3 separate regions of the Homo sapiens genome follow, and regions 1 and 2 are each linked to region 3. Evidence: fine-mapped expression QTL. A gene starts in region 3. Each other region holds a variant in brackets. All regions are shown on one strand. Distances are between the middles of the regions.

What was found.
Region 1: its variant is fine-mapped to the expression of FENDRR in transverse colon (GTEx, PIP above 0.99).
Region 2: its variant is fine-mapped to the expression of FENDRR in lung (TOPMed, PIP above 0.99).

Annotation. Positions count from the first base shown.
Region 1 is chr16:86,469,044-86,473,188 of GRCh38, reverse strand. No RefSeq gene overlaps it. Among named protein-coding and RNA genes, the nearest start is that of FENDRR, 38 kb to the left of the region's middle. The variant T/AT (reference allele first, on the strand shown) is at 2,108.
Region 2 is chr16:86,476,400-86,480,570 of GRCh38, reverse strand. FENDRR (FOXF1 adjacent non-coding developmental regulatory RNA) reads left to right here. Exons shown (of 4, transcript NR_033925.1): 2 at 1,815-1,866; 3 at 2,520-2,685; 4 at 3,372-4,171. Among named protein-coding and RNA genes, the nearest start is that of FENDRR, 30 kb to the left of the region's middle. The variant C/T (reference allele first, on the strand shown) is at 1,959.
Region 3 is chr16:86,507,076-86,511,246 of GRCh38, reverse strand. It overlaps FENDRR (FOXF1 adjacent non-coding developmental regulatory RNA), which reads left to right and starts at 2,387. Exons shown (of 4, transcript NR_033925.1): 1 at 2,387-2,592. It overlaps FOXF1 (forkhead box F1), which reads right to left and starts at 720. Exons shown (of 2, transcript NM_001451.3): 1 at 1-720. The coding sequence starts at 677.

The DNA of each region.
Region 1 (4,145 bases), 38 kb after region 3:
AGGTTGCAGTGAGCAGAGATGGCGCCACTGCACTCCAGCCAGTAGCCTCTCCCTTTGAATCACAGGTCACATATTTTAAGGCCTGGTGTATTTTATAGATGCAAAGCAGGGGTCCCCACCACCCTGAAGAGTCCAGAGCTTCTCCAAACACACTGAACTTCTTCCCACCTCCAGCCCTGAAATGCCTCCCTACCCGTCTTCCCTTGGCCAACACACCTGACAGGGCACAGCCAAGACACAGACCCCTCGGGACGCCTCTCCAATCCCCTGAGACCAGGCCAGTGGGCTTTCTGTGCTGCCAACAGCCCTGCACCAGGATGTGGCACCATGACCTGCTGTGTAGGTTTCAATTATCCTCAGCTGGAAAACCCTAAGTCACAGTAGCTTAAAGAAGGTAGATTTTGTGTTTTTCTCTTTCACACTAAAGTCTAGAGGAAGGCAGGCCAGGGTGGAGAGATGCGTTTCCCTCCAGCCGTCCAGAGAAGTGGCTTCTTTGTCTGTTGCTCTACCATGTGGGTCCTCTGTCCCCAGGCACCTTCTCAAGACTGGCCACTTCAGCTTCAGCCCTCCCATCTGCATTCCAGCCAGCAGGAGAGAGGACCACTGAGAGGAAAGGACCCAGGGGCTTGGGCCCACTGTGTTTCTTTTGTTTGTTTTTGAAGGAAGGGCCCCCCACACCCTGCATAGTTTTGTTAACCAGGGTGCAATCACATGGCCACAGCTAGCTGCAAGGGAGGCAGGAAGTGCAGTTTCATGCCTGGGTGGCCACACCCCCGACTAAACACGGGGCTTTATTAATGTGGAGGTGACAGCAGACAAGACGGAAAGCCACGGTCCTGGCCACACCATTCATGCACTCCTAGGGTGCAGCTCAGTGCCAGAATTGTCAGAGGTACTCGGTAAACGAGTGATGCTCGAATGAGTGAATGAATGAATGAACTGCCAGGTGGAGCCACTCAGACGTGGGGCTTCTTTCTGGACGGGGTCTCGCGGGACTGTGGGCCTTTGCGAAGCAGCCCCAGGGGGCCATGTTCTGACTGGAGTGCGTGAGGAGGGCTTTGGCCGCTTTAACAGAAGCCTGGGGGGTCAGAGGCATGAGGAGGCCTCCAGGGAGGGATGATTCATCCCCCAGTCTTTGCCTCTCCCATCCTGAGCATCCAGTCACCCTCTGACTTCTGCAGTCCTGGCTCTGCCCAGAGTGTCAGCAGGTAAGCCCACCCTGTGGTCTGCATTTCATTGATCCTGTGTCACGGGGGCCCCGCTTTGCAGACAGCTATGCATTTCATTGATCCTGTGTCACGGGGGCCCCGCTTTGCAGACAGCTATGCAGTAGGATCATCTTTTACGACCCAATTAGCAGCAGAGCCCCCAGACGATGGGGAGACTTGAGGCCGTTACAGTGGAGGTCAAGCGGCTTGGTATCTGGAAAGAAGGAAAGAAAGAGACAAGGGGAGAAGGGAGGGGAGGGTGACTCGATGCCCTTGCAGGGCGAGAGGAGGGATGCTCCTGAACTTGGCCAGACCAAGAATGGAAGAGGCAGGAAAGTTGGGAGCCACCCACACACTTCCTCCATATGCCATTGCAGCTCTGGCTCCTTAAGCTCTCCTTGGGGCCTCAACATGCTAAGGACTCACATTCCTCTTCCCCTGACAAGAAAATGGGAAGGGGTCTTTGTCTACATCCTCCATCCCCAGCAAGGGCAGCAGGGAAGGAAGTCTCCTGAGAGCTGAAAGGGACTTTGAAGCTCCCATGCCCAACCTTCTCTTTTGACAGAAGGGGAAACTGAGGCACACAGTGAGGTCCCAGGAGAGGTGGGGTTAGATGCACGACCTCTTAACTTCCTAGTCACTGATGGAAATTATTCGGTCCCCCTAGAAGGGCCTGTTTTGAAGGACTTGTCATCTTGCCTCCGTGACGTTTGGACCATGAACAGCATGCAGTACTGGATGTCAGGAATCCACCCCATCGGGAGCTCCATGTACTTTGCTTTATTGTTTCCTCCACCCTGTTTATATCATCACAGGGAATCCTGCGAGGAACCAATCATTCCTCCTTGGGATGAGGAAACGGAAGTACCAATTAGTTGATAAGTAACTTCTCGGAAAAA[T/AT]ACCTCCCAACCCTGGGATATCTCACCCTGGCCCACTCTGGAGGCTGGTCTGGCTCCCTAGAGGCACTGGCCACCTACAACATGGTGTTTTTCGTGGCTTTTGCACCCCAGGCAGCTCTTCTTCAGCTGACTACAAGCATTAAGGTCACCAGGAAGGCATCGCCAAGAAAATAAGCTCCTCTGAGTCTCAAAGAACTGAGTGACCTGCCTCCCCCAAAATCATACAGAGAGAGCTGGACTGAGGGAAGTTAGTCAGCCTGGGGTGACACTGTGACTGCAGATACTCCAAACTTCATGTTTTTTTTTTTTTTTTTTTTTTTTTTGAGACCGAGTCTCGCTCTTGTCACCCAGGCTGGATTGCAGTGGCACAGTCTTGGCTCACTGCAACCTCTGCCTCCCAGGCTCAAGCGATTCTCCTGCCTCAGCCTCCGGAATAGCTGGGATTACAGGTGCCCACCATCACACCTCGCCAATTTTTGTATTTTTAGTAGAGACGAGGTTTCACCATCTTGGGCAGGCTCGTCTCAAACTCCTAACCTCACGTGATCCGCCCGCCTCATCCTCCCAAAATGCTGGGATTACAGGCGCGAGCCACCACGCCTGGCCTGATCTTCATATTTAAAATGAAGTGCAGGATTACATGCTGACCACCTTCCTGTGTCCCAAAACCATTATTTTAAAAATTCTAAGTCAAATGCAAAACCTGCTCCAGACCTACAGGTCCAATGTAGCCTCTTCCATCAGTAGCTGATCTGAGACCCCCAGCCCAACACCCCCCATGCTGTTCTCCCCACCGGGGCTGGGGTAGGTCTCCCAGCAAGTCTCCTGGTTTAGGGGGACAGGCTTGTGAACTTGGTCTCTTGCTAATTATCCCTCCCGGTGACTCGGCCTGATAACTGTTACATTTGGAAATAAATGACAAACTTTTCCTACATCTGCTCCAAATTTGCATTTCAGAAATGAGAGCCCCAAGTTATGTGGTATTATATGGCAATCTGGGCCGGGCCTCGGAGTATGCAACTGATTGGATATTTTGCCTAAATCAGAGGAGTTTCAACCTCTTTCCAGGAAATTGAGTGGAACACCAAAACTGACATCCAGTATTAAATATTATATTGGTAGAGCTGTTATGTAGAGTTCTCTGGCATCCAACATCTGGGAGCAAAATTTATAAATGGGGAAACTGAATACCTGGTTGGAATGATGCTCATCAGAGCTGAGAAATTAAAATATTACCGTATACACTCCGAGTCAGGCCGCTTGTAAAGGTAGAGCTATTAAAATATGATTAGCTGAGCTGTATTTTGTCTCAGAAATGTCATACACCTTTAAAGTTGAGAAGACTTTGATGCAAATACCCTGGCAAAGGCTCTGCCCAGTCAGCAGCCATGGCGTCGAGAATGTTCTCTGCAAATATACAGTCTCACCAAGTGAGAAGAGAGCCCGCGGGAACCGCCTTGAGCGGCAGGACTCCTGTGGCTGCTGGGATACCCAGCACCTGTGATTTAGTCCGGCCGGGCTTACCAGCGTCTCACTGTGGGACATTTCAGGCCAGAGCAGGTTCACTGAATTGTGGGACCAGGGAGGACTTGCTGCAAAATTTAACTGTGCACCAAAAATCTTGAGAAATGATACTTTAGAATAATATTTTAAAAAACCAAACCGGCAAACTGCTGCTTGCTGCCACTGGCTAGCCTGTTATGAGGAAGAAAGTTTTATTGAAACCAGGGCCAGGATTAGAGGATGGCCAGCAAGGCAGGGTTCTACAAGGCCAGGGTCAGATTCTGTCTTTATTTACAATTTTAATATTTTTAAATATTTTGTTCATTAGCGTTCTCTGGTATTAACGTTATCTTTAAAAAGTGTCACATTCAAGACCAGCCTGGCCAACATGTCGAAACCCCTTCTCTACTAAAACAGGCATGGTGGTGCACGCATTTACAGGCAGCTACTCTCAGCTACTCAGGAGGCTGAGGCAGGAGAATCAGTTGAACCTCGAAGACAGGGGTTGTGGTGAGCCAAGATCATGCCACCGCAC
Region 2 (4,171 bases), 31 kb after region 3:
ACAGTGGCTGTGGCTCGAGCTACCGCTACCTGGAACGGGCCCTCCTTGGAGACGAACCCTTTATTTGACTTCTAACAGGGAGCTATCCTGAAGGAGGCCAGCTTGTTTGCTGGGAAGAGAAGTGGTTGGCTACTTACTGCAAACAGATGATACAAAAATTCACATATCCCTTCCGGAATAAGGGCTGTGGAGGGATAGATGGGCTTGTGGTGGGAATGATTTTCAGAAAGATTTGCAAGAGATTGATGGCGCTGGTTGTATCTGGGTAGCTGGGTAGTATGCAGAAGGGACAGGAGGGGAAGAAACTTACACTCTATCCCTGTGGACTTAGGCATATTGGACTATGTGAACAAATATCTAATTCAAAAATATCCTCACCTTGCAAAAGGCTAAATATATACTCCCATCTCAGAGAGGGAGGGAGGGTGGGGATGGGAAGTCCTGCTGGCTGCCCCCGGAGGCTGGGCAGGGTGTGTGTGTGTGTGTGTGTGTGCGCGCCTGGATGTGTGTGAGAGAGAAGATCTAAAATGTAATGGTTTCAGCAGAATACGGCCCCGCTGTGTAATTAAACCAAGGGGGCTGTCGGCTCCCAGAGTTTAAGCAATTTCATGTGCATTTGGTGATTATGCCTCTCTCCTTGGATAAAAGTGCTGCTTCTATTTTCACCACACAAAATCATTCCCAGACCAGGATGAAGGATCACCTTCCCTGCCCACCTCAGCATGAGGCTCCCTCCAGCTGGCAATCCCAGAAGGGTGGGCTTCTAGTGGGTGCTGGGAGGGGAGTTCAAAACTCCAGGAACCTCTGCCACTGCCTCGGCAAGAGACAGCATGGCAGCTCCGGGTTCTCTGGACTGATGGGGCCACTGTGTTCTGCGTCATCCAAGGACACACAGGCTCAGCTGAGCCAGTCTTTTATTGCTGGAGGCGTGAGTGTCCGTGCTCTTTGATCCACCGCTCCTCTGCGGTTTCTTCTGTGACCCATGGGTTATTTGGAAGAGTGTTCCTTAATTTCCAAGTCTCTCGGGATTTTTTCCAGATATTTTCTTGTTGATTTCTAACTTAATTCCATTGTGGTCGGGGAACATATTCTGGACATTTAGTCTTTTGCAATGTATTACAACTGTTTTATGTTCCAGCATATGGTCTGTCTTGACGAATGTTTCACATACAGTCACAAAGAGTGAGTTTTCTACACTTGCTGAGTGAGTATTCTATATGTTCTATTAGGTCAAGTGGTCGCTAGTGTTGTTCCAATCTTTTATATTTTTACTGATTTCTTTTGCCTACTTCGATCAACTACTGAGAGGATTTTAACATCTCCAATTATGATGGTTGATTTCTTGGTTTCTCCTTTTTTACTATAAAATTTTGCTTTATGATATTTTCAAGCTCTGTTATTAAGTATATACACATTTAACTATTCACATGGGTTAATATACATACACATGTATATTTATTAATTATAACATTAACAAATATTAATGTTTTATTAATTAATGTGCAATTTTAATGTATTAATTATAACATTATAATAATATATAATTATACAAGTATATAATATAAATAGAAATATATAATACTATATTGATTATGACATTAATAAATATTAATGTTTTATTAATATTAATTAATAATGTATATGTGGATGAAATTATGTATACAGCATATATATACAATATACAATATATGTACATACAGTACACAGACACACATGTAGAGAGAGCTTGCTCCCATCTCTGTGCCCCATTTGCTCAGTTTCTAGCATCTCCTCCTCTCTGCACCCTTCCTGGATAACCAGTTTTATTCTTCTAGGATTACTTCATGCACATAAAAGAAAACGCAACTACAGTGGACCCTGAACAACGTAGGTATGAACTGGTTCAACACGGGTTTGAGTCCACGTATCCATTTATATGTGAATTTTTTTCAACCAAACAAGGATGGAAATACGATGTT[C/T]GTGGATGTGAAACCTGCACACACAGAGGGCTGACTGTTGGTATCGTGGGTTCCACAGGGCTGGCTGCAGGACTAGAATATGCACAGATTTGATATATTGAGGGGTCCTGGAACCAAGTCTGCGAGTATAGCAAGGAAAGAGTGTGTATATCTTATTCCTCCTACACAAAAGTTAGTGCGTCATACACACCATTTTGCAGTTTGGCTCTCCCCCTAACAATATACCTTGGTGCTCCTTCCCTGTCAGCCCCCACAGAGCTTCCTCCATCTTGGTGGCAGCTGTGTGATATTTAGTCTACTACCATTTATTTAACCAAGCTCCATTGATGGACATTTGGCTGGTCACACACCCTGGCTGTTACATCCTGTGGCCTCTCTCTGTCCCATCTTCTAGATCGCCTCCACCCTGCTTCCCTTGTCCTCACACCACACTCCAGCCCAGGAACCAGCCAAGTAAAGGGAGTACCCTTTCTCTTTTAGAAGGTGGGGCAAGAGGATGGTGGTGAACATTTTCCTTCTTTCACACACACATGCCTTGGCATTGCGTTTGCCTGCATGCAGCTATGGCCTGCAGCCACTGAAGAATGCTTGCATAAGGAGCTCTTCTCTGCACATACCCCGACACAGTGATGGTATCTTGCAGCTGCTGCTTCTGTCCAAGGCACTGCAGCCTACTCGTCAAAAGCCCGAAGCCCAGCTCTGCCAGCAGTGCACTGTGTGCTCTTAGGTAATCGCCTGGCTTCAGGACAATGGGACAGTAACAGCTAACACTGGGACGGAGGTGCTTATCATGTACCCAGAACTACTCTTAAGAGCATTGCATATTTAGCCTTATTTGCTTAAAACAACATTTTGAGGTCAGTCACATACTTTCTCCACTGTGTCTTTCTGAGTCACAGAGAGGTTAAGTAACTTGTGCAAGGTCACACTGCTCAGCAGAACTAAGACTCAATCTTAGCAATCCAGATCTAGGTTATTATGAGGGTTAAAGGTATCAGTGAGCAGAACGCACTTGGACCCAGTACACAGCAGGTGCTCATTGAAGCTTAGCTCTTGTCATCATGACTTGCCTAAGGAATTGGGATATGGCTGGTCTTGCTTAGGTGGGGAGGAAGGAGAACTGAAAAATACAACCCACACTTAGAAAAGTCTAAGATTCCAATTTACTCTGCCAAATTTTTGAAAGCTCTGGATTCATGGAAGAGGAGGAGGGAGAGCAGCTAAGAGCAGCTCCTGCTGGGATCAGGTGGGAAGTGCTGGGTGGGGTGAGTGAGCCCGGGTCACTCTGTTATTACAAGCCCCGCCCGAGAAGCCTGGCTTCCCGTCTGACCTCCGATCGTGCTAGCACAGGGCTCCGTCAACGTGAAATGTGCAAATGATTTGGCGTCCCCCCTCCCTTGCTTTTCTTTGCAGGAAACAGAGAAGCAAAGAAGTTAGCAAGCTTGTTTTGGCAGAAGAAAAAACACAAAATACCCAACCACAGATCCTCAAAAATATTGCTAAGCACTAATTTTGCTAACATGTTAGACAGCCTTCGGATCTAGGCAATCTTGTTCCTCAGCTGGAAAGAGTTCCTGCCAGCCATGTGATTCCAAATCCACCCTGGACATATGGGGATAATGAGAAAATCAGCTCCGGCCTTCCCTGGCCTTCCAGCCAAGTGAATGGGGGCATCCCCTGGTGCTTCAGCCCGGGGCCCACCCAGAGGATGCTAGCTGGCCTGCAGAGGCCTCAACCATGCCCTCCTGGACTCAGGTAAGACTGAGGTTTCCATGCCCTCAAAACAATTGTTCAGACAAAAACTCACTGCCCAGGTCAAAGTCACAGCACCAGAAAGCCAACCTGAGGATGAAGACAAAGCTCTTTGTTGGCACAGTCCCCTGATCATTCGAGGTCAGCATCTCCATCAAAATGGACCCAATGCTGAGGCAAGAAGGAGAACATCACTGTTAAGAAGGTAATGAGTCACAAATGCTATTTCGATGGTTTTCTTTGAAAGAAATACACAGAACCAAACCAATTTTAATTAAAGATCTTGTCTTTGTAATCAGGCAGCCACAAATGAAGGCAAAACTGCTTTCATGTGGCATAATATACACAGAGCTGAACTAGTTTTCCCATAAAAGGGCAGGTTCTTTTCTTCAAATAAGAAAAGAGTTTGTTCCTAACAATATGGGGGATGCAACAGAAAGCTGTCTTTTGCAAAGTATAAA
Region 3 (4,171 bases):
CCCATGTACGAGTGGCCGCCGTTGGAAGGCAGGTGGGGCACCGAGTGGCTGGGCAGGGCCATGCCGTCCACGTTGCCCGGCAAGTGGCCGTTCATCATGCCCAGGCCGCCCTCCAGCGCCAGGCTGTTGGGCGGGCACGAGAGGCCGCCGGCCGAGCCCTGGAAGCCGTAGGTGTCCGGGAGGTGGTTGAAGCCGAGCCCGTTCATCATGCTGTACATGGGCTTGAGCGCCTGGCATTTCCTTCGGAAGCCGCGCGGCCGCCGCCGAAAGGAGCCCTCCTCGAACATGAACTCGCTGGCCGGGTCGATGGTCCAGTAGTGGCCCTTGCCGGGCCGCCCAAGGCCCTTGGGTAGCTTGATGAAGCACTCGTTGAGCGAGAGGTTGTGGCGCACGGAGTTCTTCCAGCCCTGGTAGGAGCCCCGGAAGAAGGGGAAGCGGCTCTGCAGGAACTGGTAGATCTCGCTCAGCGTCAGGCGCTTGGTGGGTGAACTCTGGATGGCCATGACGATGAGCGCGATGTAGGAATAGGGCGGCTTCTCCGGGCGCCGGATGCCGGCGTTGGTCTTCTTGGCCTTGGACGGGCCGGACGACGCGGGGTCCATGGCCGCGCCGCCTCCCCCGCCGCCGCCGCCGCCGCCGCCGTGCGGTGGCTGCTGCTTCTCGGGCGCCGAAGACATCGGGTGGCTGCTGCCGCCGCCGCCGCTGCCGCCGCTGCTCTGCGCCGCGGACGGGCCGGGAGGAGGAGGAGGAGGAGGAGGAAGAGGACGACGGGGGGGAGGAGGGCGAAGGGGAGGGGGCTGCGCGCGCGGGGCTGGCTGCACCTCTGCCGTCATCGGCGGCCACTTCTCCCGAGCGAGCCGCGGCGCGCCCGCCCCCGCGCTCCCGCCCGCCCTCCCCGAGGAGCTGCTGGATCCGCCGGCGGTTGGCTCAGAGCCCCTCTCTCTCCAACTCCCGCCTCCCCCACCTCTCTCCTCCCTCTTTCTTTCTCGCCCTCCCACAAGGAAAGGAGCCGAGCTGAGGCCGAGGGCAGCCCGGGCGAAGGCCGTGAGGAAGCTACCCCCGCCGGTATTTTTTGGGGGGAGGCACCACCTCCAGGTCTTACGGCCGTGCGCCCCAGCCGGGAGCAGCCCTGAGTCCCCGCCGCCCGCGGCGCTCGGCTCCGAGATTCCGGGCGAGGCAGCCTTCACTCCATCTCCGCTCGGCTGCGTCTCGCGGGTCGGCCTAAGACCCTCCCGGAGTTCCCTCCCTCCGTCCCTGCCCCCCTCGGGCCCCCGCGTTGGTGGGCGCTTAAAGAGCCCCCACTCTCGCCGCCCCGCGGCCGCCAGCAGAATCCGCCCCGCCTCCACCAACCTGGCGAGCAAGTGTTAATGCGCCCTCCGCCCGCGGTTCAGCCCCGGTGCGCGCTGGACCCCGCCTTCCCCGCCCGGGCGGCGCGGCGGGAAACGCTCCCTGGGCCGGGGCCTTCCCCGACGCGCACAGCCCTGTAGCAAATCGCAAGTGCGGCGGCCTCCCGGTCGTGACCATCGCAGGCACAGCCGGCTCGACTCCGGTCCTCGCGGCCGGCCGGCTAAGTTCCCGCGAGGGACCGCCTACCCACTCTCCCCGCCCCGGGAAGAACTGCGCCGCTCCCGGGATTTTTCGGACTCGCCCAGCAGCTTGCGAGCGGGCGGGCAGCCGCCGGGGCAGAGCGCAGGCGGAAAACGAAAGCGCAGCACGAGTCGCGGCCGCTTTGTCTCGGGCGCCGCGGGCCTGACGGGGGCGAGTGAGAACCCGCTGGCCCAGAGGCGACCCAGACCGCACAGGCCCCTGAATAAGCGGCGTGCTCAGTCACTCACCCGTGCGCGCACACCCTCGCGCTCTTGTCCACACATTAGCACACACATACATGTCTTGATGCACATGCAAACCCGGTAAATTACGCAAACAGACGTGTAAACACACCCATGCGTGTGTGCACACTCATATGCAGAGGGCGCTCAGGCATGTGCGCACCCACTAATGCACTCGTTGACACGGAAGCTTAAGGCCCACAGGAGCTTAAGTTCGCACTCACTCCCACTCACGCGTACACACGCCACGCTCGGATCTGAACTCACACGTAGTTCAGTTGCCCTCCCCCACCCCCAACACACACTGAAAACCCGCCTATTTGGCCCCGCGGCCCCGTTTTCAAAGCGCAGGTTCCGATTTCCCGAGAGATGGCAAAGGCCCTGGCAGGAAGTTTACAGGGTTTAACGTAAACAAGTTCTGGGGGATTCTTTAATAATAATAATAGAGAATTCCGCGTGCGCAGGGCGGGAGGGGGGAGTTGGCCTAATGCCCCTGTGGGCTCGGCCTGCCGCCGCCGCGGGGCCTCTGACACTGCGCGCCAGGCCAGGTTCCTGAGAGCAGACAGCGCGGGCTGGGAGCGCCGGCAAGGGCGGCCCTCGCGCACCTGGCTGCCAGCCCGCAGGGGGCTCGCACGCAGACCTGCCCTTGCCACCTCAGCGCTCGGGTGCGGGCTGGGGGCGGTGGAGCCACGAAAGGTGGTGCCGAGAGCGGAGCGCAGGACAGCGCAGGAGCCCCGGCGCATCGCGGCGCGCACAGACCCAGGTGAGTGCTGCTCTCGCAGCGACTGCTGGCCGGGCGCGGCCTCTCCCTCCAGGGTTCCGAGTTGAGAAGAGGGGGGCGAGGGGTGTTTTCGCGGGTCATCGCGAAGAGCCTAGAGGCCAAGCCCCAGCGCGAGCTGGGGCGAGAGGCGTGTGCCGGGCTCGCAGCACGGCCCGCGGCGCGGCGCGTTCAAAGCCTACCCGCCTCTCGGTTTTCTCCGGACTCCTTGTCTCCCGCTAACTACCCGCCCCCACCTTCCTGGCTCGGACGCCTTCATTTTCGGCGGGAGACGCCTGTCGCCTTCGGGGCGCCTGGCACGTCGGTGAGAGGAGCTGGGGGGCTCGCCGGCGCAGCCTGCCGGGCAGTCGCCGCCTCCTCCGCCAGATCTGCGCTCGCGGGAGAAGAGAGCCGCCTTCCCGCGCTGCCCTTCCGCTGGCCTCTCTGGGTCTCCGCGTGCAGACAGCCTGGCCCGCCTAGGGAAAGAATGAGTGTGGGACGTGACCCGTAGTGTGTGGTTGTGCATTCACGCAGGTAAACGCTCTCTGGCAGACCCGCTACCACTTCACACAACCAGCTCAGCCTCCGCGCACACAGACACGCTCCGCACCGCCCACGGCCTCAAACACCCTTCCCAGCGACCCTCACACAGCTCAGGCGCTCCCAACCCTTGGACCAACACACAGGCCTGCCCAACGGGGAGGGCACACTTTGGTTTAAGTGCACACTTCATGCACGCCCACATGTTCTCCACTGCGCGTTCGCCCACGCATAGCCAGGCGCCACGCGCAAATAATCATAGGTACCGCCGCTCCATACGTGCGCACGCGTCCACGAACACAAGCATTCTCACATTCTCTCCCAACTTTTGTGTGTGTGTGTGTGGCAAATGGCAGTTGCAGATGAGGAGACCCTGGCCTCCGGAGGAAAGTTCTGTTCCCAGGAAGGGGTCGCTACTGCCGACTGCCAGAGCACATCTGGCCCTTAGCAGAGGTGAGCAGAGAAGGCTGCACAGCTCTTAAGCCAGCTAGGGGTGCAGGGCGCACGCTGCGGCTCGCTGAAAGTGGAAATAGCATCTCCCTTCCCCTCGCCCCTCCCCCACTCATGGGGCGCCTTCAAAGTGAGCGGGTCCCTAGAGCATGAAGTTGGGGAGCCCTTTCCCAGCAGACTCCTTCACTCCTGGGCCCTCTTCAGTTGGGGAAGGGAAGCCGCAGGTCCCATCGTTGGCTAACCCGGAGATCCATTTTTCCCTCCTTTCCACCCTTCTTTCTGCCCTTTCACCGGCTCTGATAGCAAACCAGACCTTACAGAACAGCCAGTCACGGAGCCCAGCGAAAGAGCCGGCCCAGTAGGCCTGGGAGTCTCAGGAAGGCCAAAGATGGAGGCTCTCCCCAACTGCTCATCTCTACTGCTGGGTGTGTGTAGAAGTGGGGGCGTGAGAGAGGAGGCGAATGAGCTCCCAGCTCTGTAATTTGGAGGGGACCCCCTGAATTCTGGGGAAAACCACAGCCGTAGCAAGAAGGGCTTTCCTTCATGCTCAGAGACTTCATTCTCAGCTCTTACAATGTCCCTGAGAGGTCTCCCT